Regions from separate parts of the Homo sapiens genome. Here regions 2, 3 and 4 are each reported to be linked to region 1. The links are microRNA targets in miRTarBase. Many come from high-throughput screens and were not tested one by one. Region 1 holds a microRNA gene; each other region holds the end of a gene's coding sequence.
The links. Region 1 holds the annotated microRNA hsa-miR-6881-3p (AUCCUCUUUCGUCCUUCCCACU, at 5,127-5,148, shown strand). A microRNA usually pairs through its seed, bases 2 to 8, with sites in the 3' UTR of a target mRNA and lowers its output. Matches are read on the target gene's strand: a 7mer-m8 pairs with bases 2 to 8, a 7mer-A1 pairs with bases 2 to 7 and ends in A, and an 8mer does both.

Region 1 (7,112 bases):
TCTGTGTGTCCGTGTGCATGTAGAAGTTGTGTGGATGTATGAGTGGGTCTGTGTCAGGGACTGTGGGAGCAGCTGTGTGTGCATGGAGCATCATGTGTCTGTGTGTGGGTAAAGGTGGCTGAGCTCCTGTGCACGTATGATGGCGTGTGAGCGTGTGTATGATGGGGTGTGTGTGTGTGTGTGTGTGTGTTTTGCCTGTGTGAATGTGCTGTGCCACGTGTGTGGGTGTGTGAGTCAGTAAATGTGTGTCTGAGTCCGTCTGCTCTGTGGGGACCTGGCACTCTCACCTGCCCTGACCCTGGGCACTGCTGGCCCTGGGCTCTGGATCAGCCAGGCCTGCTTGCTGGAGTCTCATCTGGAGACCTGCCCTGAGTCCTGGGGCACCCCCGGCAGGTCCTGGCCCCTCACAGCCTGCCTTCCTCCTCTGGGCCCAGGTGTTGATATTGCTGGCAGTGGTTTCCTGGGGTGTGTGGGGAAGCCCGGGCAGGTGCTGAGGGGCCTCTTCTCCCCTCTACCCTTCCAGGGGGACCAGGGTGGGGAAAGTTCACTGTCAGTCTCCAAGTGGAACACTTTTCTGAAAGCCATGCTGGTATGCAGTGATGCTGCCACCAACAAGAACTTCAACAGGCTGCAAGACGTCTTCCTGCTCCCTGACCCCAGCGGCCAGTGGAGGGACACCAGGGTCTATGGTGTTTTCTCCAACCCCTGGTGAGTGGCCCTTGTCCTGGGGCCGGGGCTGGCATTGGTTCAGTGTCCAGTAGGGACAGGAGGCCTTGGGCCCTGCTGAGGGCCTCCCTGGTGTGGCAGGAGCAGGGGCTGCAGGCTCAAGAGGCTGGGCTGTTGCTGGGTGTGGGGTGGGGGGACAGCCAGTGCGATGTATGTACTGTTGTGTGAGTGAGTCTGCACTCATGGGTGTGTGTGCATGCCCTATATGCACACTCATGACTGCACTTGTGCCTGTGTGTCCCACCACCTGCTTGTGCCGAGAGTGGACACTGGGCCCAGGAGGAAGCTGCTGAAGCATCTCTCGGGGAGCTGGGTGCTATTACACCTGCTCAGGCACTGCCTGAGCCCGATAATTCACACTTCTTAATCACTCTCATTGATTGAACACACGGCAGGCGGAAGTGTTGGGTGTGTGTGGGGAGAGTTAGGGATAGAGTGGAGGAAGCCAAGACCCTGCTCTGTGGCTCCTGGGTGAGTGGGGTCCCCCAGGCTGGGAAGGGGTTGGGGGTCTGGCCTCCTGGGGCATCAGCACCCCACAGCCTGTGCCCAGGGAGGGCTAGAGAACTGCTCAGCCTATGATGGGGTTCCTCCTGCCTTGGGGTTGGGTAGAGCAGATGGCCTCTAGACTCAGTGATTCTGTAACAGGATACAAGTTTGTGGTTTTAAATTGCAGCACAAAGAAATTAGGCTGAACTCCTCTCCTTCCTCCTCTCCATCCCTCCCCATTTTCAGTGGTGGTTGGCAACTCAGTGCCAGGCACAAGGCTGGCCTGGGTGAGTGGAGGTGGATGGGTGGGTTCTGGGCCCCCCATTGAGCTGGTCTCCATGTCACTGCAGGAACTACTCAGCCGTCTGTGTGTATTCCCTCGGTGACATTGACAAGGTCTTCCGTACCTCCTCACTCAAGGGCTACCACTCAAGCCTTCCCAACCCGCGGCCTGGCAAGGTGAGCGTGACACCAGCCGTGGCCCAGGCCCAGCCCTCCTTCTGCCTCACCTCCCACCACCCCACTGACCTGGGCCTGCTCTCCTTGCCCAGTGCCTCCCAGACCAGCAGCCGATACCCACAGAGACCTTCCAGGTGGCTGACCGTCACCCAGAGGTGGCGCAGAGGGTGGAGCCCATGGGGCCTCTGAAGACGCCATTGTTCCACTCTAAATACCACTACCAGAAAGTGGCCGTCCACCGCATGCAAGCCAGCCACGGGGAGACCTTTCATGTGCTTTACCTAACTACAGGTGAGAGGCTACCCCGGGACCCTCAGTTTGCTTTGTAAAAACGGGCATGAAAGGTGTAAGGAATAATGTAGTTAACATCTGGTTGGATCTTTACATGTGGAAGGAATAATTGAGTGACTGGAGTTGTCAGGGGTTAATGTGTGTGGGTGTGGAAGAGTCAGGCAGGGAGAGCTTCCTGGAGGAGGTAGGGGCAAGAGGGAAAGGGGGATGGGAGAAAAGCAAGCACTGGGATTTGGAGGCGGAAATCTGGAGAGTCTGAGCAAAGCCAGGTGCACCTTTGGTCCAGATGTCTGACTCAGGGAAGAAGATGGTAGGAAGAGACGTGGCAAATGAGGAGGAGGGGCCTGAACCACAGGGATACTGGCCTCTGCCAGGCAGAATGAGGGAGTCAGGCCCTGCGCCTGTCTTTGGGATTGTGCAGGTGAGAGGAAACATTTGAGGAGTTGATGGGGCACAAATTAGGTATGAGGAAGGAGTTCCAGGGGGCAGAACCTTTGCCATCTCACAGAGGACAGGGGCAGCTTCTCTTCTTCCCTGGAGTAGGCCCTGCTGGGGGAAGCTGGGTGGAATGCCGTGGGAGATGCTCCTGCTTTCTGGAAAGCCACAGGACACGGAGGAGCCAGTCCTGAGTTGGGTTTGTCGCAGCTTCCCATGCCAGCTGCCTTCCTTGAGACTGGAAAGGGCCTCTAGCACCCCTGGGGCCATTCAATTCAGGCCCAGGCGCCCAACCTCAGTTGTTCACATTCCCCATGTGATCTCCTGTTGCTGCTTCACCTTGGAACTGTCTCGGCTTTGGTGACCTTGTAGGAAACTGGAACCCCAGCACCATTGTTTGGCTCCTGGAAGCCTTGGGGAGAGGAATTTCCCACAGGGCAGGGCCTGGGTCCTGATTCCCTGCCTCTTTACTCCCTATTCATCCCGGCTACACCCTTGGGCCCCCATCCTTGCTTGGCTCCAGTAGTGGCTGGCACAGCTGTTGTGGTCAGCCAGGGATGGCAGGGCACTGGGGAGCAGAAGAGGAGAGGTCACACAGTGCGGAACTGGGAGCAGGAGCTAGGACAAGGAAGGCTGGACTTGGGCCATGGATTCCCTTCCTGCAGACTTGGGAGGTGAGCACACTTGAGTGATTAGAGAAGGTGTCTTCGTTCTAAGGGCAGTGGAGGAGGCACCATTTTGGAGCCTGCATCATTCGTATTTGGGCTAGACTGAAAAATAGAGCTTTCTAAGTCCTCTGCAGAGAATGGGAGGCTCTCACAACTGGGAGAAGTATTGGCTCTTTTCCTGAGAATTTTGCCAAGGGTATGCTGTTACTGGGGCTGGTTTGGAAGGAGGTATAGGGCAGTATGTCTGTGAAGGCAGTGGCTGGGGTGGGGCCTTATCAGGCCCAAGGAGCATCTGGCCACATCTCAGAGTCCACAGATGAGGATCACGGATGTGTAGAGGAAACATCCTAGGCAGGCAATCATCTGACTGCTTTTTTGGGGCAGGTGATGCCCTGGGAAATTGGGAGGGAGGGAGAGAGGGAGGTAGGCTATTCTAGAAACTGGGAGAGCAGGTGAGGTAGGATTGGGAGGACCAGGGGTCAGGGTGCCCATTGGTCCCTAATTGTGAACGGAGAGAGCATTGGTCTAGGAGGCAGGCAGCTCGGTTATAAGACCTTGGGAACTCTTGATTTAGAATCCAAGATCCTTTTTAGATCTAAGATTTTATAAAATTAAGATATCCCCTAAGATCAAATGCAACGTGGAGTCCTGAATTGGATCCTAGAACAGAAGAAGGACATTTGTGGAAAAACTAGTGAAATCCAAATAAAGTCTGTAGTTTTGTTAATAGTAATGCACCAATGTCAGTTGCCTAGTTGTGACAAATATACCGTGGTTATGTAAGATGGTAACATTAGGGGGAACTGGAGAAGGGTAGATTGGAGCTCTCTGTACTATCTTTGCAACTTTTCTGGGAATCTAAAATTACTCCAAAATAAAAAAAAAATGTATTTAAAGTAAATATATTCCCTAAGAGTCCAGGAGGCAGGGGAGTTGTAGAAGCAGCTGAGTGGTTGGGCTCTGACAGATTTGGGTTCCAACTCGGTCTCTGCTGCTCACCAGCTGTGTGACCTTGAGCAAGTGGCTTAGCCTTTCTGAGCCTGATTTCCTTATCTGTGGAGTGGGGAAGATGACAGCCACCTCGCAGGGCTGTGGAGGGTTAAACGAGGTGATGCATGGACAGCAGCCGCACTGACCTTGCTGGTGTGGGGCTCCTGCTTCTGTTCTTCCCGTGCAGCCTTGGGAATGTTGGAGGCCGTATCCAGGGACCCCTGGGCCTCCTGGGATGGCCTCTCTGGATCAGCCTTGGAAGGTTCCAGGCTGCCCTTAGGCTCCCACATTCTTCCCCAGTCACGCTCTCCTCGCCCTGCCCACACCAGTCCTGTGACCCTTGCCTGAGTTGTGACTTCCCACCCCTCCCCGGCCTAGAGGAAAGCTGCCTGGCCCCTCAGTGGGACTCCCGCCCACTGACCCTCTGTCCACCATACACAGACAGGGGCACTATCCACAAGGTGGTGGAACCGGGGGAGCAGGAGCACAGCTTCGCCTTCAACATCATGGAGATCCAGCCCTTCCGCCGCGCGGCTGCCATCCAGACCATGTCGCTGGATGCTGAGCGGGTGAGCCTTCCCCCACTGCGTCCCATGGGCTATGCAGTGACTGCAGCTGAGGACAGGGCTCCTTTGCATGTGATTTGTGTGTTCTTTTAAGAGCTTCTAGGCCTTAGGGCCTGGACATTTAGGACTGAGTGTGGGGTGGGGCCCGGGCCTGACCCAATCCTGCTGTCCTTCCAGAGGAAGCTGTATGTGAGCTCCCAGTGGGAGGTGAGCCAGGTGCCCCTGGACCTGTGTGAGGTCTATGGCGGGGGCTGCCACGGTTGCCTCATGTCCCGAGACCCCTACTGCGGCTGGGACCAAGGCCGCTGCATCTCCATCTACAGCTCCGAACGGTACGTTGGCCGGGATCCCTCGTCCCTGGGAGAAGGTGGGCATGGGAGAGGGGGAGGTGTTGTCGGGCTGGAGGAGGTGGCGGTACTGGGCCTTTCTTGTGGGACCCTCCTCTCTGCTGGAACTGCACTGGGGTAAGGATAGGAGGGTCAGGTCTGCAGCCTTGTATCTGCTGATCCTCTTTCGTCCTTCCCACTCCAGGTCAGTGCTGCAATCCATTAATCCAGCCGAGCCACACAAGGAGTGTCCCAACCCCAAACCAGGTACCTGATCTGGCCCTGCTGGCGGCTGTGGCCCAATGAGTGGGGTACTGCCCTGCCCTGATTGTCCTGGTCTGAGGGAGACATGGCCTTGTCCTGTGGGCCCCAGGTACATGGGGCAGGATACAGTCCTGCAGAGGGAGCCCTCTTGGTGGGATGAGCGAGACGGGAGAAAAAAGGAGGACGCTGAGGGCTGGGTTCCCCACGTTCATTCAGAAGCCTTGTCCTGGGATCCCAGTCCGTGGGGAGGACACATCCTCCCCTGGGAGCTCTTTGTCCCTCCTCACGGCTGCTTCCCCACTGCCTCCCCAGACAAGGCCCCACTGCAGAAGGTTTCCCTGGCCCCAAACTCTCGCTACTACCTGAGCTGCCCCATGGAATCCCGCCACGCCACCTACTCATGGCGCCACAAGGAGAACGTGGAGCAGAGCTGCGAACCTGGTCACCAGAGCCCCAACTGCATCCTGTTCATCGAGAACCTCACGGCGCAGCAGTACGGCCACTACTTCTGCGAGGCCCAGGAGGGCTCCTACTTCCGCGAGGCTCAGCACTGGCAGCTGCTGCCCGAGGACGGCATCATGGCCGAGCACCTGCTGGGTCATGCCTGTGCCCTGGCCGCCTCCCTCTGGCTGGGGGTGCTGCCCACACTCACTCTTGGCTTGCTGGTCCACTAGGGCCTCCCGAGGCTGGGCATGCCTCAGGCTTCTGCAGCCCAGGGCACTAGAACGTCTCACACTCAGAGCCGGCTGGCCCGGGAGCTCCTTGCCTGCCACTTCTTCCAGGGGACAGAATAACCCAGTGGAGGATGCCAGGCCTGGAGACGTCCAGCCGCAGGCGGCTGCTGGGCCCCAGGTGGCGCACGGATGGTGAGGGGCTGAGAATGAGGGCACCGACTGTGAAGCTGGGGCATCGATGACCCAAGACTTTATCTTCTGGAAAATATTTTTCAGACTCCTCAAACTTGACTAAATGCAGCGATGCTCCCAGCCCAAGAGCCCATGGGTCGGGGAGTGGGTTTGGATAGGAGAGCTGGGACTCCATCTCGACCCTGGGGCTGAGGCCTGAGTCCTTCTGGACTCTTGGTACCCACATTGCCTCCTTCCCCTCCCTCTCTCATGGCTGGGTGGCTGGTGTTCCTGAAGACCCAGGGCTACCCTCTGTCCAGCCCTGTCCTCTGCAGCTCCCTCTCTGGTCCTGGGTCCCACAGGACAGCCGCCTTGCATGTTTATTGAAGGATGTTTGCTTTCCGGACGGAAGGACGGAAAAAGCTCTATTTTTATGTTAGGCTTATTTCATGTATAGCTACTTCCGACTGCATCTGTATGAAAATACCAAAACTACATGCGGGGGGGTGGGTGGGAAAGGGAGGGGCTGGGAAGGGATGGGTTGGGGAGCGGGGGTGATCCCAGTCTGAGGCTCCCGGGGATGAGATAAGAGTCTGGAGACGGGCATGGGTTCTTGGAGAGTGGCATGAGCTGGCTCTGCCCTGGGAGCCCGGTCTGAGGGGGACGTTGTTGGAGCCCCTAGTGTTGGGGGTGGTTATGGGAGGGGGTGGGGTGAGGGAAACGGGAGAATGAAGGAGAAAACTGAGCCCTAGTTTCACCGTGTTCATTTGGAAGGACGAGCCGGGTCCTCAGGGGGAGGTTCCAGGACTCTGCCCTTGGCGTTGAGGGTTGGGGGGCGGGGGGCCTCCTCCCTTCCTCTCAGCCCCCTTCCCCAGGGGCTGTGCTTCCATGCTCCTAGCCTCCCACCTTCGCTCAGGACATGTTATAACTTAGGCTAAACTGTGAAAATTCCGGTGGGGATGGCCTGGGCCGAGCTCTCCAGGCAGGCGGCCCTGCCCCCAGCCCTGTCCATCCATTTCAGGGGGGAGCTGGGCCCTTCTCCGGCTGTGTCTGGCC
Region 2 (7,116 bases), not on the chromosome of region 1:
TAGCAGCGGAGGGGAAGGGCGCTGCTGGGGGACGGGGGAGTCCCCCAAGCCTACTGGAGGTGGGGTCACGGGGCCCCTTCCCATGAAAGCCGGGGCTCTCTCCTGGCGGCCCAGGAGAGGCCCGCACGTCAGGTCCCCTAGGGCAGCAGGGCGAGACGCCTGGCCCGTGGGTGCCCCGGGGCGCTGCGGACGGGCTGCGGGTCTGACTAACGATGCCCTTTCTCTCCCCGCCCCCTTGTCCGGTGTGTGTGTGTGTGTGTGTGTGTGCCTCCTCGCTGCTCCCCTCCTCTGCACGGCTCCCATCCCGCGCCCCGTAGACAGCTACGCGGCTCCACCCAGCCCCGGGGCCGCCCCTGCCCCCGCGGGCCGCCCTCCGCCCGCGCCCTCCTTGATGGACGAGAGCTGGTTTGTTACCCCTCCCGCCTGTTTTACGGCAGAGGGGCCTGGACTCGGTCCCGCCCGCCTCCAGAGCAGTCCCCTGGAGGACCTCCTCATCGAGCACCCCAGCATGTCCGTTTACGTCACCGGCAGCACCATAGTGCTAGAGCCCGGGTCCCCTTCCCCGCTCCCGGACGCGGCCCTGCCTGACGGCGACCTCAGCGAAGGGTGAGCGGGCCGGGGGCGGAGCCTGGAGGCCCAGGGAGACGGATCTTGGAGGCCAGGGTCCAGGCTAGGAGGCTGGGGTAGTGGGGCCAGGAGCCCGCCCCGCGCTCGAGGGGGTAGCGGCCTTGGGAGGGTTGCCTTTGAGACAAAGTGGGGGGCCGGTGGGCCTCCGGGCGAGGCTAGAAGCGGGCCTGAGGACGGAGGGGCGGGGCTTGAGAGGGAGGGGCGTGGCCAAGAGGCTGGGGCCGGGGTTGGAGGCTTGAGGAGCGTGGCTGGAGCGCCTAGGGAGTGGGACTTAAACAGAAAGGCAAGGGTGGAATAGGGGGTGGGGGTCCAGTCTCCCCCGAGGTCCAGTTTACCTGTTAAGGGCTAGAACCGAGGAGGCACCTCCGGGTTGGTACCCACAAGAAGGGCGTCGGGCACCCCAATCTGAACAGACACAGAACTGAGCCGAAGCAAGGGTGGGAGATGGCAGCGCCCTCTAGACCCCCCGCCCAGCTTACCCGGCTTGACCGAGCCTGGCTCTGTCCTCACAGGGAATTGACGCCCGCCCGCCGCGAGCCGCGGGCCGCGCGCCACGCCGCTCCTCTCCCAGCGCGGGCGGCGCTGCTGGAGAAGGCGGGCCAGGTGCGGCGGCTGCAGCGGGCCCGGCAGCGGGCAGAGCGCCACGCGCTGAGCGCCAAGGCGGTGCAGCGGCAGAACCGAGCCCGCGAGAGCCGTCCGCGCCGGTCCAAGAACCAGAGCAGCTTCATCTACCAGCCGTGCCAGCGCCAGTTCAACTACTGAGCGTCCACCGGCCGCGCCACGAACCCCTTGCCGATCCCGATCCCTGTCGGGCTCCTCCGACTCCTCGGGCTGGACACCGAAACCTCCCTTCTTAAAGCGTGTGAGGTTGGGTGATAGCCGTTCCTTCCCCGACACCCTCAATTTCCCCATCTCTGATCCTCTAATCTGCCTCTGAACCCATTCACCCTTCACCCTCACTCCTGGTCCCCATACCCAGCATCTAATCATCCATGCCCCCTACTCCTGGCCCCTCCATCCTTTCTTCTCTGGTCCCCATCCCTGTCTCTCCCTTTCACCCTTGCCCTCCAGTCCTCTACCTCTGGCCTGCCCCTATTTCTGAAAGCTTCTTCCAGTCCCTGATCTGGCTCATTCCCCACCTTCAACTCCCACCTTACATGTCTCACACTATCCCATGGTTGGCATTACACTCACTCCTGTTCCCTTATTCTTCATTCCCAGTAATTCCCTACCAAATGGTGGGGACCCTGAGCCCAGCTCTGACCAGGTAGAGCCTGTGCAGCCTGGGCTGCTGTCATTGCCCTCCAGTAAGGGCTCAGGGTTTTGCTTTTAGTCTCCCCTTCCTTCTGCCTTGGGGGCGGTACTCTGTGGAGCTGCTTAGGCCTGGAAAGGTACAGTATGTAGAAGAGGACTGTGAGACGTGAGTTAGAGGGAGAAGATGGAGGGAATCTAGGGAACGAGGCAGCCTATTGGAGATGCGGACAGGACAGACACGTTGAGAAGCTGCAGGGAGCAGGGCACCAAGGGAGTGTGCACTGTGCTTGCTCAGAGAGGCCAAACCCTGCTCCCAGGCTGAAGCCTGGAGTCTGCCCCCACTTCCCTTTTCTATAATCCACCCTTCTGCAGGCCCTGAAATCTGAAGGGCTTAGTTAGTACCTTGCCACTCTACCCCCAACACGTCACCCGAGTAGAAGCTGGGCAAGGCCCTACCATCCTGGCCGTCTGTTCACAAGCCCAAGGTGCTAGAACTAGCTTAGGAGACATGCAGGCCACAGGGCTTCTAGGCAGGGAAAGGGCACACACCCTAGGTCAGCGTGCAGAGCAGTGATGCTGGAGGACACACCATGGGGTGAAGCCATCCCAAGGCTGACAGCTCAGTCTTCACCTTGCCTCTGGCCTTGTATTTCACACCCTGCTCAGTATGGCTAGCCAGCAGTCCTGAGTAGGAGTCCAGGACTCCCACTGTCTCAATCTGCAAATTGTTCCTATCCAGGTTCAGGGCCTTCAGGGGGCCTCTTTTCATTTTCTCCCACAGGCCTCTCTTTCTTTCTAGGTTGCTGGGGAGAAATGGGTACCCTATGATCCCCCTCCCCTTCTCCTCCAGTAAATACCTGGAAGAGGGAACCTGAATCCCTGGGGGAGACAGAAGGGGCAGGGGCCACCAGCCTCCCCTTCTTGTGGTGAGACTGAATTTTGGGCTCAGACACCAGCAACAGCCTCTTGGGATGCCCTGAGTTGCTTCCCATTTCCTCTTTCTAGCCGTCCTTTTCTAGTGTGTGCTCACTCTTCCTAGGAACTTTTAAGACTTCTTGGTACCTATGAACATAGGTCCTCCCCTCACCCCAACTCTAGGTTTCCAGGCCTCACAGCCAAGCTGAAGCTTGGAGAAAACTCTGCATTCCCATGAGGGCAAAGGCAGCTGCCCTCCCTGACCCTATAGCCCCAGGCCTCATGGGGGGTATGTGGGGAAGGGATGGGGTATCCCCATGGATGCTGGGATGAGGACAGAGGAAGACCTGATGGGGTCTCCTATTCCAGGGAATAAGCCAAATTAACACTAAAAACGGATCAAAGCTCCCACGCCAGTCCACTAGGGCCCCAGTAGTTGACAGCCTTGCTCCTCTCCCAAGTTCTCCTTCAGAACCTAGTTGCTTTTATTCTTCCAGCTACCACTTGGGCACTTCACAGCCAGCCTAGGGTCTTCGGCACCTCCAAGAGCTGAATCTCCCTCCAACCCTTCTTGCCTACTCCTCACTGCCAGCTGGGACCTAGGCTCAGTCCTGTGTGGTGCCCATGATCCTTCTGGTGGGGGAAGAGTTTAAGTTATAGGGCATTTGGCTCAAATTTTAAAAGGCCTTTTGTTTACCTATATTTCTGGAGGCTCCTGTATTCTAGAACCCAATCTCTCACCTGCTTGGTTGCAAGGCTCATATTTTTTTGTACCTTTCCTATAGATTCTGTAGCATTTGAGTGTGGCAATATTTTAATTGTGTATAGATTTCTAAGAACCAACACTACTCAGTCTCCTGCTAGTCTGACTCCTGAAGCATCAGCCCTTGTCATACTGTATTGACTGTGTACGTGCCTTTCACCTTGAGCATGCTTCAGGATTTTTTTTTAAACCACAGAACTTGAATACATGAGGGAACCAGAGTTCAAAGTCCTATGCAACCTTAGGAGGGGGTTAGAGAGTCTGTTTTGATTGATGTTTTCTGAGGCCCTAGAGGAGTTTGTATCAATTTGTGAGTATTAATGTCAGTACTACCAGCACTTTGCCAAAACTGTCAGAGGGACCCGTTTCTAGAGTGAGTCCCAGTTACATCAAACAGTGACTTCCAGTTATTCCCCAGTAAGTCTGAGTGGTTCCTTCAAGCTGGGTGTCTTTCCAGCCTTTGCCAGTCTAGCCCCAGCAGGGCACCGTGTATGAATGCAGTTTGGTGCTGTTTTAGAGTATGCCTGCTCCCCAGCCCCCTGCCTGGAACCCTCTGAGCAACTTGCTCTGACCTATAATGTCTTAGGTGCAACACGGACCCCACCAGAGCTCTTGGATACCCCCCTAGATCCATGTGGCTTTATGTGAGGGGACTGAATGCAGACACACCATAGCCCCCTTCTACTACTTTCCCTCTCGCCCTGCCACCTAGTTCCACATGGAACCAACAAGTTGAGTGCATCCCTGTTGGGTGTTTTGTGTTGAGACTGGCTGAAATGAGGAGACTTTGACCATGTGACGTGTCAACAGACTCAAGGAGACAACCACCTCAACTGGGTCATGTGGCATGCCTGTGTATGTGTGTAACAGAATTCTGATTGTTAGACTGTAATGCTATTCCTCTATGGGAGAAAAAAATTAATATAAAGAAAAACAAATAAAAATATATTTAAAGCACATGATCCTTTCTGCCTGAGTTGAGCTTAAGTATGAGAAGCATCTTGTAATCTTAAGCACAGTAGTGGCATAGGATATTATGATAAAGCTGGCCTTGGTTCTGGTGTGTGTGTCATATGGGAGAGGAAGAGGGGAGATAAGCTTACTGGGAACAGAGCCAGACAATGGGGTCTGACTCATAAATGACTACTGTTAGAGGATCCTTACAATGCAAGACACATACATGAAGACAGCTGAAATAGAGATGAGAATAACAGCATGACAGAATGACCAAACTCATCCTTGTGGTCTCAGGCACTGGGTTAGAGCAAGGGCAAGTAGCCACTGGAGGGGAAAGGATGAAGTCTAATCCTGGGGGAGATGCAGCAGAAGGCTGAAGCCCAGGCTGAGACAAGGCCAGGGCCCCAAGCATCAGAGTCTCCTCAAGTTGCAGGTAGGGTGGGGCAGAAGCAGCTGGCTTTGGAGACTACACACATTTTGAAGAAGGACAGCCAGAGTGAAATGTAGTGGACATCTCTGAAATATACAGCACAAAATGACCCCTTTAATTTGGGAGCTGCTCTGTCTAACCACAGAACTAAAGGTGGAAACCTGACCTAAACTGGACTAGATTTTTTTTTTTTTGAGACGGAGTTTCACTCATTGCCCAGGCTGGAGTGCAATAGCGCAATCTCGGCTCACCGCAACCTCCGCCTACTGGGTTCTAGCGATTCTCCTGCCTCAGCCTCCCCAGTAGCTGGGATTACACGTGCCACCATGCCCAGCTAATTTTGTATTTTTAGTAGAGACAGGGTTTCTCCATGTTGGTCAGGCTGGTCTCGGACTCCCAACCTCAGGTGATCCACCCGCCTAGGCCCTCCAAAGTGCTGGGATTACAGGTGTAAGCCACCATGCCCGGCCCTGGACTAGATTCTTGATGCTGGCACAATCTTACAGGCCAGTTTGGGCTTACCTCCTGCAAGGAGGAGATGTCAGCACAATTGTTTTGGAGCAATCCACCATGCAAATGGAGGAGCAGATATGTGACATGGTGAAAAAGTGCCATCTCAGCTGCTGACAGCTTCCTGTCCCTAGAAAATCCTGGGTGGCCATTGATCTCTAAGTTGGTTTTGTTATTTGCATCAAAAGAAATCTGAGCAATATATATCAAAATACCTGGCACAGTGCTGAACAGGGCTAGTTTCTTCAAAGCCAAGAATGAGGTGAGGGAGCAAGTATGTACATTTTCCTCAACTTGCCAGGCGGGCATCTCAGGTTCAATGAGGACTAGATAGGAATTCCATCCACAAGGCTGTGTCTGCTTAGTTAAGGTCCAAAGAAAGAGCTGATCACCCAAAAATCCCTTACCAATAACATAACTTTATGTTCTATGACAATGACATTTATTTAACACGTTATTTCACATTGTACAAATCCTTAGATTCTCTTTATTCACTGGTCCATTTCTACAACAAATACATCCAAAACACTATATAATAAAATTATTTACAACATTTCCAAATGAGAAGATTGCTTTTGCCCCCACTACTGCTATTCACACACAGTACTTCCACGGCACAATACATCATTAGGAGATCTAAAAATGCTCACCCTGTACTCTAGGCTGCTTAGGAAATGTGAAAACTAGTAACATTTATAATGGCATTAGCTCCTTTCAATACAAGACAACATTTTAGAAACCTTGAACTTCAACTCGCAACACCAAAAGGGCTCAACAGTCCTGCTTTCCCCATTGCACTTTATGAAACAGGTTGCAGGGACTAGGAAAAGGGCCACATTATTAAAATTACTAACTGTACAGAAATTGATTTAAAAAAGTCACAGCTCAAAATTGCTCTTTGTAAAAGTCACACACATTTCCAAGTATCAAGTCGCAGTCCTGCTTGTTTACTTGGATTTTCTTCGCTTGGATTGCACCGCACTGGTTATGTCTGTGGGGGAAAGAAAGGACATGTTCAGTGGAAGTAACTCTTTACAGCAGTGCCCTTTAGACAGTCCACAACAAGCAGGGCAGACCTAAGGGGAGCCCTACTCAACTCAGAATCTGTCTAAGGGGTGCTCTGAATGGAGAGAGTCACAGGCTTTGCTTGATGACTTACGTGGGAAGAGGGTGTGGTCCTGCATTGGGCAGAATTGGAATGTGACAGAGGTGGTGGCGATGAAGCACACTGACTAGAGAAAGTGCAGGGTGGAGAGAGCCTTTGTAGCTGGGCAATTCACCCACTGTTTCCCTCACCAGTTCTCATCATAAAACGAAGTGTAATAGACAGACTGACAATGCTTTTGGTGAGAAATCAACGAGTAATGCCATAAGCAAATGAGTAAATTCTGTTAGAATGCAAAAAAAAACCTGCCTTGGGATCCCTTTTGGAGCCAAGCTATTGTTTCACAGTAAGGAACCATTTTTGTCATGCTATAGTCAAGGTCTAAACAACATGACCATGGGCCTTGGTCAGTGAGGGTCTACTATGGCCCAGCCAGTTATATCAAGATTGTGGAAGGCTGGGCGTGGTGGCTCACGCCTGTAATCCCAGCATTTTGGGAGGCCGAGGTGGGCGGATTGCCTGAGGTGAGGAGTTTGAGACTAGTTTGGCCAACAT
Region 3 (7,116 bases), not on the chromosome of region 1:
AAAAGAAAGAAAAAGAAAAAGAATCTAGCACCCTGGAGTTCCTGTGTCTTCCCATCCCTGGTCACCCTGTTGGGACAATATCAGCACACAGACCCCAAGGGGCTCAGCCTGCTTCTTTTTTTTTTTTTTTTTTTTTTTTTGAGACAGAGTCTCGCTCTGCCCAGGCTGGAGTGCAGCGACGTGATCTTGGCTCACTGCAACCTCCACCTCCCACATTCAAGCAATTCTCCTGCCTCAGCCTCCCAAGTAGCTGGGATTATAGGTGCACGCCACCACACCTGGCTAATTTTTTGTATTTTTTAGTAGATAATTGGTTTCATCATGTTGGCCAGGCTGATCTCGAACTGCTGACCTCAGGTGATCCACCCGCCTCAGCCTCCCAAAGTGCTGGGATTACAGGCATAAGCCACCACACCCAGCCTGCCTGCTCCTTTTGACAGGACACACTCAGTGACAAGGTACAGAAAGACTGGAAGGAAGGGGCCCTCAGGGGGCAAGATTAATTTCAGGAGCAGGGTGGGGGGAGGCAGGATGAAGAGCTGGATGGAAAACACCTGATGAGGCAGGAGCTGCAGCGTGATCCTCCCAGCGATGGGAGAGCCACACCAGTCTCCCCCTACCCTTGGAAAGGGGACTAGGAGTTCCCTGAAGCCTGAACTGTTGGAGGCTCAGCCACAAAGTCCTGCTGTGGTGGTTAGGCTGGCCCAGGAAATTGCTGCCTGCTGAGCACCAGCCATAGGACATGAGGGTCCGGCTCCCAGTGGCTGTCCTTGGCAGCCAGCCTGAGGCCAAGGCTTAAGGGGCTGTGGGTCAGACAGGAGGCCCTGGGAGGTGTGGTACAGAAGACGAATCCCTTAGCAGAGTGTCCCGCAATTCATCAGAGCCTCATGCTCAGCTGAGCCAGAGGACTTTGACATTACTCATTCATTCATTCACTCATTCATTAAATCATTCGTTATGCAATAGCTACTCCATGCTGTGCACCAGCCCAGAGCTGGAGGTTGTTAGTGGAGAACTCTAGATGGTAAATGTCAGGAGGCCCTCTGTGAACCACCGAGGCTTCAGCTACCAAGAGGCTTTTCAGGCCAGCAGCCCACCTAGCTCCTAATCCAGGGCCCATCTGTTCTTCCAGAGCAGAGACCCAGGCCTCCCCCTCCCTTTGGTGGGGGCCACCACCAAGCTGGAGTATGCACAAGGGGCTGCCTTCCCGGCTGCTAGAGTTATCATCACCATGGCCAAGGTCGTGCCCAGCCATGGAATGTGTATACTGAGAGCTGAAGATGGTTTACCCAATGCCCAGGGCCCACATGGGCGGCTGCCATCTGTGTCACCTCTCCACAGTGCTTATTGAACTTTGATGGATACTAAACCATTGATTTAGTATTACACCAGTGATTCTCCCATGTGCACACACCATTCAAAGGGAATAGTCTGGCTGGGTGTGGACTACTTTGGGAGACTGAGGCAGGAGGATCACTTGAGGCCAGGAGTTAGAAACCAGCCTGGGCAACCGAGTGAGACCCTGTCTCTAAAAAAAATTAAAAAATTAACTGGGCATGGTGGTGTGCACCTGTAGTCCCAGCTACATGGCAGGCTGAGGTGGGAAGATCACTCGAGCCCAGGGGTTCAAGGCTGCAGTGAGCTATGATCATGCTACTAAACTCCAGCCTGGGTGACAGAACGAGGCCCTGTCTCTAAAAAATAAAAATAAAAAAAGGAAGAGTCCATGGAAAGTCATATAAGTTCACAAGCTAACAGCAGTGGAAGCCAATAGGTATGGAACCAGTGGCTACACAAAGGTCACAGAGAACAGACACATGCCCTGAATCTGGACAAGAGGTCTCTGCAGGGTGAGATGAGGAGCCAGCCTTACATGGCCTGGAAAGAGCAGGCAGGCACCCTTGGAACTATCAGGTGAATTAAGAGAAGTCCAGAAACAGGGCAGGTGGGACGGTTGAATTCTGGGGCAGGCATAAGGGAGTCTCTGAGGTCGACATGCAAGAGACCAGGGGCAGGGCTGGCCCACACTGCAGGTGGAGCTGGCAGCCAGATGGGAGGAGATGCAGGGAGGGCATTAGGCCCAGAGTGCACCTGGAGATCAGAACTGGGGGCACCTAACAGGGGCCTGTAGGGCAGCCAGGACAAGCACAGGAAGATGGGACCAAGATGCATGGAGAAAGCTTGTGGGACAGTGCAGCGTGGCTCCCTGGTGGGCTCCAACACTAGTTATCAGCTCCCAATAGCAGCTGCCTTCCCCTGGAGGCTTGCTGGTGCCTGCGGAATCTCCTTTATCCTATAGCAACCACTCTATGAGGCAGACGCTATCTCACCCATTTGCCAATGAGGAGATGGAGGCTCAGAGAGGTCTGATCACTGGCCAAAGCCAGGCAGTGAGTGCTAGAAACAGCACTTGAACTCGAGCCTGTCTCATCTCACACACCATGCCTGCCTTTTCTTTTTCTTTCTCTTTCTTTTTCTTTCTTTTCTTTCTTTCTTCCTTTCCTCCCTTCCTTCTTTCTTTCCTTCTTTCTCTTTTCTTTCCTTTTTCTTTCTTTCCTTCCTTCTTTTTCTTTTCCTTTCTTTCTCTCTTTCTTTCTCTCTCTCTCTCCCTCCCTCTCCTCCTCCTCCTTCTTTTTCTTCCTCTTCTCCTCCTCCTCCTTCTTCTTCCTTTTCTTTCCCTTCCTTCTTTCCTTTCCTTCCTTCTTCCTTTCTCCCCTTCTTCCCCTTCCCCTTTCCTTTCCTTTTTCTTTCTTTTTACAGAGACAGAGAACTCCTGGGCTCAAGTGATCCTCCCACCTCAACCTCCCAGAGAGCTGAAATTACAGGTGTGAGCCACTATGCCCAGCCGACCATGCCTTTTTCATGTTCATGAAAAGATGCTCAGCACTACTAGTCATTGAAGCAATGTAAATTAAAACCACATTGGCCGGGCATGGTGGCTCATGCCTGTAATCCCAGCACTTTGGGAGGCTGAGGTGGGTGGATCCCCTGAGGTCAGGAGTTCAAGCTCAGCCTGGCCAACATGGTGAAACCCTGTCTCTATTAAAAATACAAAAATTAGCCGGTGTGGTGGTGTGCACCTGTAATCCCAGCTACTTGGGAGGCTGAGGCAGGAGAATTGTTTGAACCCGGGAGGTGGAGGTTACAGTGAGCCAAGATCATGCCATTGCACTCTAGCCTGGGCAACAAGAGTGAAACTCCATCTCAAAAAAATAAAATAAAATAAATAAATAAATAAATAAAAACCACATTAACCACAGGCCTATTCGAATAGTTAATATCAGGATAACTAACAGCACCAGGCAAGGATGGGAAGCAACTGGGATGCTTACATGCTGCTTTTGGGAAAATGGTGCAACTTCTGTGCAAAACACGTTGTCCGTTTCCCGTGACATTAAATGTACCCTTCCCATAGGTCCCAGCAGGAATTCTCCTCCTGGGTATTGATACCCTGGAGAAGTGAAAATTTAGGATCACAAAAAACCTGTACACGAATGCTTACAACAGCTTTATTCATAATCGCCCCCAAACTGGAAGCGACTCAACCAGCCTTTAACAGGGGAAGGGATAAACACAGTGTGGTCCATCCATACAGTGGTATATTACTCAGCAACGAAAAGCAACTAAATATTAACACATGCAACAAAGTGAATGAATCTCAGAGGCATTATGCTGACTAAAGAAAGCCAGAATCAAAAGGCTAAATATTGCACGATTCCATTTATATGACACTCTGGAAAAAATCAAAAGTGTAGGGATGAAGAACAGATCAGTGGCTGTCAGGGGAGGGGCTGAGGGAGAGCAAGGGCTGCTGAATGCCCGTGTTTCCATTTTTGGACAGGATTCCTGTAAAGTAGGCAATTAGGGAAGAACTTTGGCTGTCATTTGGGGCTGCCACATTGAGAACAAGCTGGGACAACATGTGAGTGACAGGATCCTGGGCAGAATCTCAGCTGACAGCATAGCCAGACCCAAAGAGGCCTGATCGCAGGACAGCACTCTAGTAGGACTGTGGGCTGACACCGACCTAGTGTCCCACTGTGAGGCTCAGTCTGAATTTTTTTTTTTTAAGACAGGGTCTTGCTCTGTTTCCCAGGCTGGAGTGCAGTGGTGCAATCTCAACTCACTGCAACCTCCGCCTCCTGGGTTCCACAGATTCTCCCACCTCAGCCTCCCAAGTAGCTGGGACTGCAGGCACTCGCCGCCACCACACCCAACTAATTTGTGTATGTTTCGTAGAGACGGGGTTTCGCCATGTTGTCCAGGCTGGTCTCAAACTCCTGGCCTCGAGCAATCCACATGCCTCAGCCTCCCAAAGTGCTGGGATTACAGGTGTGAGCCACTGCACCTGGCCAGTTTGAAATCTTAATCAGGAGATTGGATGAAGATCCAGAGCTCAAGCAGATTCTCAGATGCTATAACAGTGGGAGGGAACGTGTATGTGGAAGACAGAATAGAGAGTTTAAAATTCTTTCTAGATGGGAAACTGTGAGGTTGGATTTCCATTCAGAGCAGCATTGCACAACTGCTTGTTAGGGAACTATTTGAACCATGTCTTTTATTTTCTGCATGCTTTAACATCTGAGGTTTTGCTAATCCTGGAGGGCCTGCCTCTCCTAGAGATACAGCAACTTGCCCACAAATGCACTTTTCGAATGCAAACCAACTGATATAAACCATATTCCAACTACCTCCTTTATCAGATTCTCACACTCCAGGCCACTATCCACCTGCTGTAATCACCCCAGGGCAAGATACCAGACAGCTAGTGACAGCCCTTATTCCACGGAGCCTGCTGAAATTATTCAAACTAGCAAATCTCAAGCCTGCTTACCCTGCCTCACCAGTTCCTTCCTGCAGAAACCATCATAAAAGTAAAGTTGCTTTGTCCAGAGTTTTTCTGTCTCATGTGCGTCATGTTCGGCCCTGATGCCTCCCTGGGGACCCCTCCTCTTCCCCCTATGGCACAGCGGCCCCTCCTCTTGGGAACTGTGAGTAATAAACTATCTTTTCAATGGTAATTATTTCCTGATCTGTCAGCTATACTATATTTCAAATTTCCTATTAATACTATTTTATTTTATTTTTTTGAGACAGAGTCTCACTCTGTCACCCAGACTGGAGTGCAGTGGCATGATTTCGGCTCACTGCAACCTCTGCCTACCAAGTTCAGGCGACTCTCCTGCCTCAGCCTCCCAAGTAGCTGGAATTACAAGCAGGCACCATCACACCTGGCTAATTTTTGTATTTTTAGTTGAGATGAGGGTTTCACCATGTTGGCCAGGCTGGTCTCGAACTCCTGACCTCAAATGATCTGCCCGCCTTGGCTTCCCAAAGTGCTGGGATTACAGGTATGAGCCACCATGCCTGGCCTAATACTATATTTTAGAAGAGTAACTTATTTCTTGGTATTGGTTGATAGAAAAAAGCCTGGGGTTTTTGCTGAGCTTGAGGTCACAGCAGGTCATAGTGGGGATGGAGTGTCTGTGTTGCTTTGCTGTGACCATCGGGCCACCACTAGGACACTGTCCCAGCCGTTCCTGAGGAGTGGGCCAGCTGTGATGCATAGGCTGTGACCTGCTGTTGTAGAATCCCTGTTCCTGAGAGGTTGAACAGGGTCTGGCCAGGGAAGGCTGTGAACTCATTGTGGATTCAGAGATCAAAGAGGAGGGTGTGGGGACCATGAGGTTCACCTAGAATTTCTCCATCTTCTCCATGAAGGTTTGGTCTGGGAGCAGTACCTCCACGGTGTAGCTGATGCGTTTAGAATGAACCAGGCTGTAGGTGTTGTAAAACCTCAGGACATCTGCAGTGAGGGACAGACATTCAGACAAGATGCCCCACCTGGGACTCTGACTTCCATGGTGGTAAATCTCTGCGTGGGTACCCAGACCAGGGAACCATTGCCACAATTGAGAGCCCAGAGCCAGCCTCACACTGTGCCCACCAGAACCAAGGGCCCTCACCTGGTAGGACCTGGATGCACATTGTAGCACCCTCCCCCTAGCCCCCAGCTCCAGGTAGAGCCATCCCTGCCAACTCTTACAGCTGCCGGCCTGGAGGCAGGTGAGAATCCCATCTTCAGGCACCATGTGGGCATTGTAGCGCTGGCTGGGCAGCACCTCTGTCATCTCCCTAGCCCTCTGCCGCTCCCCCATCTTGGTCTTCAGGAAAACCCCAAAGCCAATGTCCCCACCATCTGAAGCAAACTGCCACCTGCAGTGGATAGAGCCCCATTGGCGACCCCCTGCCTGGGCTCCAGGCCCCTCCCAGATGTGCCCAGGTGTAGAGTGGCTGCCATCCCTACCTGAGCACACAGCCCGGGAACAGGATCTCGTTCTCCACCTGCAGGGAGGAGCCGCGGCCCACGGACCTCGTGTGCTCATACTGCAGCCTCACCTGCTTGCACAGGTAGTAGCTCTTGGGCACCTCACCCCCGTAGTTGATCTGTGGGTGAAGGGGGTGTGTGGGCACTAGGTCACAGCTTCTCCCCTCCTTCCCCATCCTCTGGGCACCCTGTACCTTGGTCAGGCACTTGGGGTTGCCATCGGGGTCAGTCATGGTCCCCCCAAACTCCACGGGCAGCTGGTCGGGGCTGATGAATTTTGTCAGCTCCTGCTTCCAGTTGTCTGCATGGGAGCAAGAGAGGGACTCCAAAGGGACTCAGGAGACTCAACAGAGGGCAGAGGGGGCTGAGCCCAGGTCTGTCCTTTGGCCAGCTGCTCTCCCTCCCTGGCGCGCTTTTGCCACTCCATTGCCTAGAGCAGTCCTGTCCCAGAAGAGGGAAGCCAAGTGGCCCTAGGTCTTGTCCTGGGGCTCAGCATGTGCTGTGTTGACTAGGTCCTGTCCCAGGCCTGCCCCTCTCTTACTGCCCCTGCAGGCCCTGCCCCCACATCTGTCCAGGTATTGGCCCATTGGCCACGTTCATAGGAACTCGGACCAGCAACTCCTGGAGCCTGGGGTTGAGGTCAGGCAGGCTATGACCCGGTCTTCGCTTTCCCTTAGAGACTGAACTCAGCCTTCTGGTCAGATACTGCCCTCAGCTCCCAGGGCTCCAGCACCCTCAGAATTGCAGGGCCAAGCTCGGGTCAGTTCCCCACAAGCTGCTCTGAGATG
Region 4 (7,116 bases), not on the chromosome of region 1:
AATAGTACAGCCAAGATTGTGCGGGCCAGGGGTCAGCAAACTTGTTCATAAAGGACCAGATAGTAAGTATTTTACTTGTAGTCATATGGTCTCTGTTGCAAGTACCCAATTCTGCTGTCATAACACAAAAGGAGCATGGGTAATATGTAAACCATTGGGAGCAGCTGTTCCAATAAAACGACTTGCAAATATAGGCTCACACAGTTTGCCACCCCCTGGTATAGGCTAACATCGTGTATATTTAGAAGAAGGATGGAGACAGTCTATATATCCATCTGTGGTTCTTGGCCAGTGTTTCGAGTTTTAAGATTCTCATACCTGAGCATTGACTGACTATGGCATAATTTTTTCTGCCCACTCTTCTCTTGCAGAAGCTAAACCAGCCCCAGAAATATTTGAAAATGAAGTCATGGCCCTGCTGAGAGACTTTGCTAAAAACAAAAACAAAGAGCAGAGACTGCGTGCCCCAGATCTTGAGTACCTCTTTGAAAAGCCACGTTGAGCTGTGCTCCACGGCCTGGCATGGGGGTTCAGTCTGTGGATGGTAACTACTTATGATGGACGTTAGCCTTGCTTCCGGCTTCTTAGATGCCCAGCTGCCCTACCCCAGACCACTGGTCCTGCCTCAAGTGATGGACATAACCCTCTCCTAGGACATACATGTAAATGCACAATGTGACTCATTCTCATACTTTTTTGTTCAGCTCTGAGCCTCAAAAGTGATTTGTCAGCAGCGCTGGCATGCAGGCTTTGCCTGGCTGCTATCTCTAGAGGCAAGTCTGCCACGAGAGGGCACTGCAGGCGAAGCAGTTGTGCTTGCTCATTGCCTCAGCCCAAGTGTACTCAAAGAAAAGAGGCAGCCAGCTGTGCGTGCTGTATGGAAAGCCTCCCGCCCTCCCTGCAGCTCCCCGCCCTCAGTGGCCCAGGGCTTTGTTGAAGTGGAACTCCCCACTTCCAACCTGGTATGGCTCCTTCTGCGAAGGGAAGCTGATCCCAGCCTCCTGAGCTGAATCCTTCAAAGGCACAGCAGGCAGAATGAGGGCCACAGGCAGGAGTGGTGTGGGCACACTGCTTAGGAGTCAACATCTTCATCATTGGGCTTTCTTTAAAACGTGCACTTTGTAATTTGAAAGAGAATTATTAAAGCATACTGAAAAAAGGAAATTTACAATTTCCCAGCCCTCACAATTAATTTTAATTTTGTCTATTTTCATATAACCCATAGTCATGTTTATAGAGTTTTACAAGTTCACAATTACAGGTTTTATTTTCATGTAGCACTATAGAAAACTTTCCCCCTCATTCCTACAGTCTTCACAATTAGTTGACTAAATAATAATACATAAGAAATAATATATTAGAATGAATTAGTTAGAAGTGTTTTTAAAAGCTCTAGGGCTGTGTGACTTCTGTGTTGCTAGTGGTGCCCTCCCTGGAGGGGTTTTGCCCTCAGAGCTGTAATCTAGGCAGTAGAATCAGTCACCCAGACTGGACCAGGTGCATCTAAAGGTGTTGACTAGAAGAAGGTCGGCCAGATTTGATGAGCAGGTGGTTGGTGATTATAGGAGCCGCACACAGGGACTACACACGCACATGTTTCCAGCATTGTTGAGCTCCAGGGTTCCTACAGAGCCACCTCATGGTTCCTGCCTGCTCTTCAGTATCCCTGGTGGCTCAGGAGGGAAGGGAAGAGATCTAGCCTTTACGTAATCACAGTTAAGCCTCACAGCACTCTAGACTAGTGGTGTTACCTGTATTTTATACATAAGAAAGTGGGCTCAGAGAGAGGAAGTAATTTGTCCAAGGTCAGGTAGCTATTGAGTCGAAAAAGCAGAATTTAGTATAGCTCAGTCTGCCTCCAAAGCTCTTGAACTTTCTACTAGAACACACTGCCTTACTGCTGGAAATTTAATAGAAGTCTCTGTTTGGGAAAGCTGTGGCAAATAGATGTGACAGTTCTGAGACATGACCTCTGTGTTACATGGTGGGTAGGAATCTGCCAGGTGCTTCGCCAAGTGAGTAGATCTGAACTTGATCACCCAGTGAAGCTTCTGTGAGGAAGCAGCGCAGTGCACTGGTTACACATTTAAATCCTGGCTCTGCTGCTTACCTGCTGGATACATGAATTGACCTGAGCCTCAGTTGCCTCATCTATAAAATGGGGATGACAATGCTTCCTGTCTCAGCTAGTTGATGAGATGAAACACACAAAGCTCTTACATGGTAACTTGCACAGTATGTACTCTAGATATGAATGTCAGCATTTAGTCATAGCCTCAGTCTGAGACTTAAAACCTGTCCCTAACACAAATTGCCTGGCATATCAATGAGGTCACCATAGCTACATCCAGGGTTTCTCATCTGCAGGTCAGAAAGCTGAGCCTATTAATAGAACCACAGAATGTCTTACCTCCCAGTGAAGACGAGAGAGAAAACAGACCCTGGTGACAAGACCTTTGATGGAAAAATCTAGCACTCTCCCCTAAGCAAGGAATGGAAGTGAGACTCGCAGAAGCAGGGCAGGCGAGGAAGGAGACGTCTCCCTGGGAGCTTGCTGAAGACTCTGGCTATTCTCTCGGGCTGCATTTATGTACCCTGGGGAGAATGTTAAGCAGGCCGGGAGTTTATATATAGACATAGATCTGGACTGTACGAAGTGCACATGAATTGGGCGGTGACTTACCCATTTATCCTTTGCACGTTATGCAACAAACCCCAGTAGCCAAGGATGTAGTTGGAACTTTTCTCCCCCTCGGGTTTGATCCCTTCTTATCCTGATTTTGTCTTATTTAACACAATGTTCAATTGCTGCCGCTTTCACCTGGGAATGGCATGCTTCTAGAGGAATTGTTTTCCTCCCAGGCTGCTGGATTGTGTCATCTTTGAAAGTGAAGGATCTTGCTAAGTTCACCTGCTCAGTTGTCAGGCCCAGGGATGCTATGTAAACAGTTTTTCCCTTTATTAGGCATTAAGTAAAACTAGGCCGGCCACAGTGCATTTTTTTAGGAATTAATAAACATATAGCAAGGGCCAGCAGCCCCCGAAGGATCGCTAATGCACAGAAGCTAGACTCATTCCTTTTACTTTGACACATCCCTGCTTACTGACCTCATTCAGAGCCTGTGTGGGGCATATGAGCGTCTGGCCCTGTCCTGACCGACTCAAGTGGTCTTGTGAGTCCTGCACAGGCTCTCCACGTGACACCTTAAATTGGGTCAGGAAAGGCTGTTCTCTTTCCATCGTTTCCTTTTAATCATCCTAAGTCTTAAAAATCCATAAGCCAAACACCTTGTGCTGGAGCTTTCTGTGCCTTAGACAGAGTGTGTCTTTTGGGGGTCATTGTAGAAGCACTCTTACTGGCTTTGAGTGTTATCTGGAGGTCATCTGGTATGTCTTCTGCTCCAGCCAGGGTGGCACCAATACAGACCTGGTTCATATTTTTAAACATCACTGGGAAAAGATTCCGATGGGATAGTTGGGGTCTCTCATTTATCCTTCAGTCCATCTGCAGCTATTTGTGGCTAGACAAAGAGAGGAAGGTTTAATGATAAGCTAAACAGCTGTAGATGGCAAGCAGGTCTGTGAGATTTTTGAGCTGACAGCCCCACTTAATAGTATGTTCTGTAGTATCTGAGGACAGTGGACTCACCATCCCGCAGCTATCAAGTTGATGACACTGATCAGTACCCAGTGAAACTAACTCCTGACACCTCAGTTTCCCAGTGAACCCTCTGGGAATGAGGAGTGGTGTTCGAATTTTCCTGTCAGGGAAGATGGCATTGGTGGGATAGGTGGCTTCAGGCCAGCAGTACTTTTTGTGGCTTAAGAAACAAGTGTTGTTAGCAGTTTGTTAGAGGGGTGGTAGAAAGTTTAAGCTATCCAGGACAACATCAGTCTTTAAAGGAGATGGGTAGATTTATCATCACCTATAGCTGCAAAAGAAGAGTTAAAAGCCTTTTGTTGGATCCCGGATCTCAGACCCCAGATACTCCTTTTTTTTTTTTTTTTTTTGAGACAGGGTCTCACTGTCACCCAGGCTGGAGTGCAGTGGCAGGATCTCCCCTCACTGCAAGCTCTGCCTGGGTTCAAGCGATTCCATGCCTCAGCCACCCTAGTAGCTGGGATTACAGGTGCACGCTACCATGCCTGGCCAATTTTTGTGTTTTTAGTAGAGACGGAGTTTCACCATGTTGGACAGACTGGTCTCGAACTACAGGCCTCATGTGATCCGCCTGCCTCAGCCTCCCAAAGTGCCAAATATTCCTTTCAAAAAGGAGAATGTTTCTTTAAGAAGGGGATTGTATAATCTGTCATGAGATTAGAGTATAAAAGGAAAAAAGTGGGGGAGGGTGGATATATCATTTTCTGTAACAACACATCACAGCATGGAACTTTCAGCAAGTGAGAACGTTAAGATGTACATTCTGTTTCTCAGTGGATTCAGGTGATTTGGCTAATATTTAATAAAATATTCTCCTCTGGTGATGCCCTGGAACACGTGTTTAGGGGAAATAGAACAGAGTAGTTAAGGGGAGCTGTTTAGGAATCAGGCCTAACCTAGAATCCTGGAGCTCCCATTGATTAGCTGGGTGACCTGAAACACATTATTTAACCTCTCCAAGCTTCTGTTTCTCATCTGTGGAAAGGAAAGAAAAGGAACCCGACCTCACAGTGTGGGTATAAGGACTGAATAAAGTCCTGCCCCTGGAGAGCTTAGTACAGCCCCTGTACCCTCAGTAATACTTGGTAGTAACATCTAATAGTTCGGCTTGTTGTGTACCCAGTGCTGCTGAGTGCTTTACGTCATTTCATCCCACAATACCGTGAGATAGGTGCAATGATTATTCCCGTCTTAGAGATGAGGAAAGTGAGGCTCGGTGAGATAAAGTTGCTAGCTCAAAGTCACAGATAGGAAGCGGTTGGGCTAGGGTTTGAAGCCAGGCAGTGGGCCCCAGGGCCCTTGCACTTAGGTACCATGTGCTACCCTGCCTCAAAACATGAAAAGCATCATCATCTCTCTTCTAACGACCTCTCATCCTGAATCTTGTCTTGGTCCATGGCAGACTGCTGGTGTGGACAACTTTGCACAGATTGGGCCACCCTCTCTTGGTTCCCTATAGGACCTGGGGACCATGACTCATATGTCACAGCCTCAGCAGCTCTAGACTTAACCATCTGAGCCTTCCAAGGAGGACATGTGCAGCCTAGCTCTCCAGGTGAGAGCTTGGAGTTCAGAGACTTCCTGTGGATTTGGAGGGGAGCCAGAGGGAAGGGCTCAAGTTCTACCCAGCTTCAAGCGTTTTCTCCTTACCCTGAGCAGCAGAGATGAGCTCTTATGCTTTCTGGGCCGTCCCATCACTGGCTGTCCTTTGTATCCAAGTGGGAGGCTGCCTCTGAGAGTTGGATGTGCCTGTTAGGAAGCCCACATAGAACTCATTCCAGGGTCCCAAGATGAGTTGCACAACCTCTATCGCACCCACTGGCTCCAGTGCCTTTGCTGACAAACTAGTGCTGGTTCCTCCTAAGGCCCAAGGCTCTGAGGCCAGGCCCTCTGTGAGCAGGACCCTCACTCACCTGTTTCTCTGGGCTCCCATCTCAGCGGAGTCATGCAGAAGTGAGAAGGTTTTCATAGATGGTGTATTAGATACTGTTTGCAGCAGAAGCAGAAACAGGTAGTTGTCTTGGTCCAAATAGGAGAAGTGATGCCTAGAAATCTAACTGGAGACCGGGTGCAGTGGCCCATGCCTGTAATCCCAGCACTTTGGGAGTCCAAGGTGAGTGGATCATCTGAGGTCAGGCGTTCAAGATCAGCCTGGCCAACATGGTGAAACCCCGTCTCTACTAAAAATACAAAAAAAATTAGCCGGGTGTGGTGGCACGTGCCTGTAATCCCAGCTACTAAGGAGGCTGAGGCAGGAGAAGCACTAGAACCCGAGAGGTGGAGGTTGCAGTGAGCCGAGATCGCGCCATTGCACTCCAGCCTGGGCAACGAGTGAAACTGCGTCTCAAAAAAAAAAAAAAAAGAGAAAGCTAATTGGAAAAACACTGTCATGGTCTTCACTAAATGCTGGGGATAGAGAAGAATGCATCTTGTCTGTCCTTGAGGAGCTCACTGTTCTTGGTGCTTTATTTCATTGATTGCCAAGCAGAAGTTGTCTGCACTAGCATAGCACAATGTGCTACACCCAGTGCCAGACACAGAAGACGCGGAGATCAATGAGATGGAGCTCGTGCCGCAGAGGTCCTCTGAAGAAGGGATAAGTGAATGGAAGGCACGAAAGGATCTGTCTATGGGCCTCAGGCACTGACCCTGTGAGAGCAGGCAGCAGGACATCTAGCCTTGTATGCCAGGTCTATCCTCACAGCAGGGATGAGGACACCAGGCCACTGAGCTCTGAGACACCTACTTTTAATATAGAAATAACTTCTTTTGTTCTGAATTCACCCTCAGCAATCAGTTACGATTGTCTGGTAGATTTCCTTTTTATAGAGACAGGGTCTCACTCTGCCACCCAGGCTGGGGTGCAGTGGTGTGATTGACTCTTGGGCTCGAGGCATTCTCCTGTCTCAGCCTCCTGAGAAGCTGGGACTACAGGCGCATGCCACCACACCCAGCTAATTTTTTAAAAAAAGTTTATTTTGGGCCAGGTGCAGTGGCTCACGCCTGTAATCCCAGCACTTTGGGAGGCCGGGGTGGGCAGATCAAGAGGTCAGTAGTTCGAACCAGCCTGGACAACATGGTGAAACCCCCGTCTTTACTAAAGATACAAAAAATTAGCCGGGCGTGGTGGCACGTGCCTGTAATCCCAGCTACTCAGGAGGCTGAGGCAGGAGAATCCCTTGAACCCGGGAGGCGGGGGTTGTAGTGAGCCGAGATCATACCATTGCACTCCAGCCTGGGCGAGAGACTCCGTCTCAAAAAAAAAAAAAAAAGTTTTGTAGAGACAGGGTCTTGCTGTGTTGCCCAGACTGGTCTGGAACTCCTGGCTTCAAGCGATCCTCTCACCTCAGCCTCCCAAAGCACTGGGATTACAGGCATGAGCCACTGAGCCAGGTCTGTCTGGTAGATTCTTACCCTGTGTCCATGCTGTTTGCCATGTAGCTTTTAGGGCTTTC

Region 2: the mRNA of TP53INP2 is a reported target of hsa-miR-6881-3p. Seed matches in the 3' UTR shown: 7mer-m8 at 2,032-2,038 and 7mer-A1 at 3,134-3,140.
Region 3: miRTarBase lists SEC14L6 as a target of hsa-miR-6881-3p. Seed matches in the 3' UTR shown: 7mer-m8 at 4,978-4,984 and 7mer-m8 at 4,949-4,955.
Region 4: the mRNA of SDHAF2 is a reported target of hsa-miR-6881-3p. The part of its 3' UTR that is shown has no 7-base or 8-base seed match.

The regions. Positions count from the first base shown.
Region 1 is chr15:74,409,397-74,416,508 of GRCh38, reverse strand. It overlaps MIR6881 (microRNA 6881), which reads left to right and starts at 5,077; the gene lies at 5,077-5,152. SEMA7A (semaphorin 7A (JohnMiltonHagen blood group)) reads left to right here. Exons shown (of 14, transcript NM_003612.5): 8 at 524-708; 9 at 1,563-1,671; 10 at 1,764-1,962; 11 at 4,497-4,624; 12 at 4,799-4,953; 13 at 5,153-5,214; 14 at 5,524-7,112. The coding sequence ends at 5,885. RefSeq lists enhancers at 3,859-4,359, 4,360-4,860, 6,866-7,112, 6,769-7,112.
Region 2 is chr20:34,708,919-34,716,034 of GRCh38, forward strand. It overlaps TP53INP2 (tumor protein p53 inducible nuclear protein 2), which reads left to right. Exons shown (of 5, transcript NM_021202.3): 4 at 318-606; 5 at 1,140-4,518. The coding sequence ends at 1,389. NCOA6 (nuclear receptor coactivator 6) reads right to left here. Exons shown (of 15, transcript NM_014071.5): 15 at 5,856-6,447. The coding sequence ends at 6,404. Among named protein-coding and RNA genes, the nearest start is that of TP53INP2, 8.1 kb to the left of the region's middle. RefSeq lists silencers at 1-560, 601-860, 1,111-1,280.
Region 3 is chr22:30,519,304-30,526,419 of GRCh38, forward strand. It overlaps SEC14L6 (SEC14 like lipid binding 6), which reads right to left. Exons shown (of 12, transcript NM_001193336.4): 9 at 6,523-6,629; 10 at 6,308-6,447; 11 at 6,047-6,216; 12 at 3,496-5,806. The coding sequence ends at 5,694. Among named protein-coding and RNA genes, the nearest start is that of SEC14L4, 17 kb to the left of the region's middle.
Region 4 is chr11:61,445,570-61,452,685 of GRCh38, forward strand. SDHAF2 (succinate dehydrogenase complex assembly factor 2) reads left to right here. Exons shown (of 4, transcript NM_017841.4): 4 at 372-1,164. The coding sequence ends at 502. Among named protein-coding and RNA genes, the nearest start is that of SDHAF2, 19 kb to the left of the region's middle. RefSeq lists an enhancer at 773-1,520.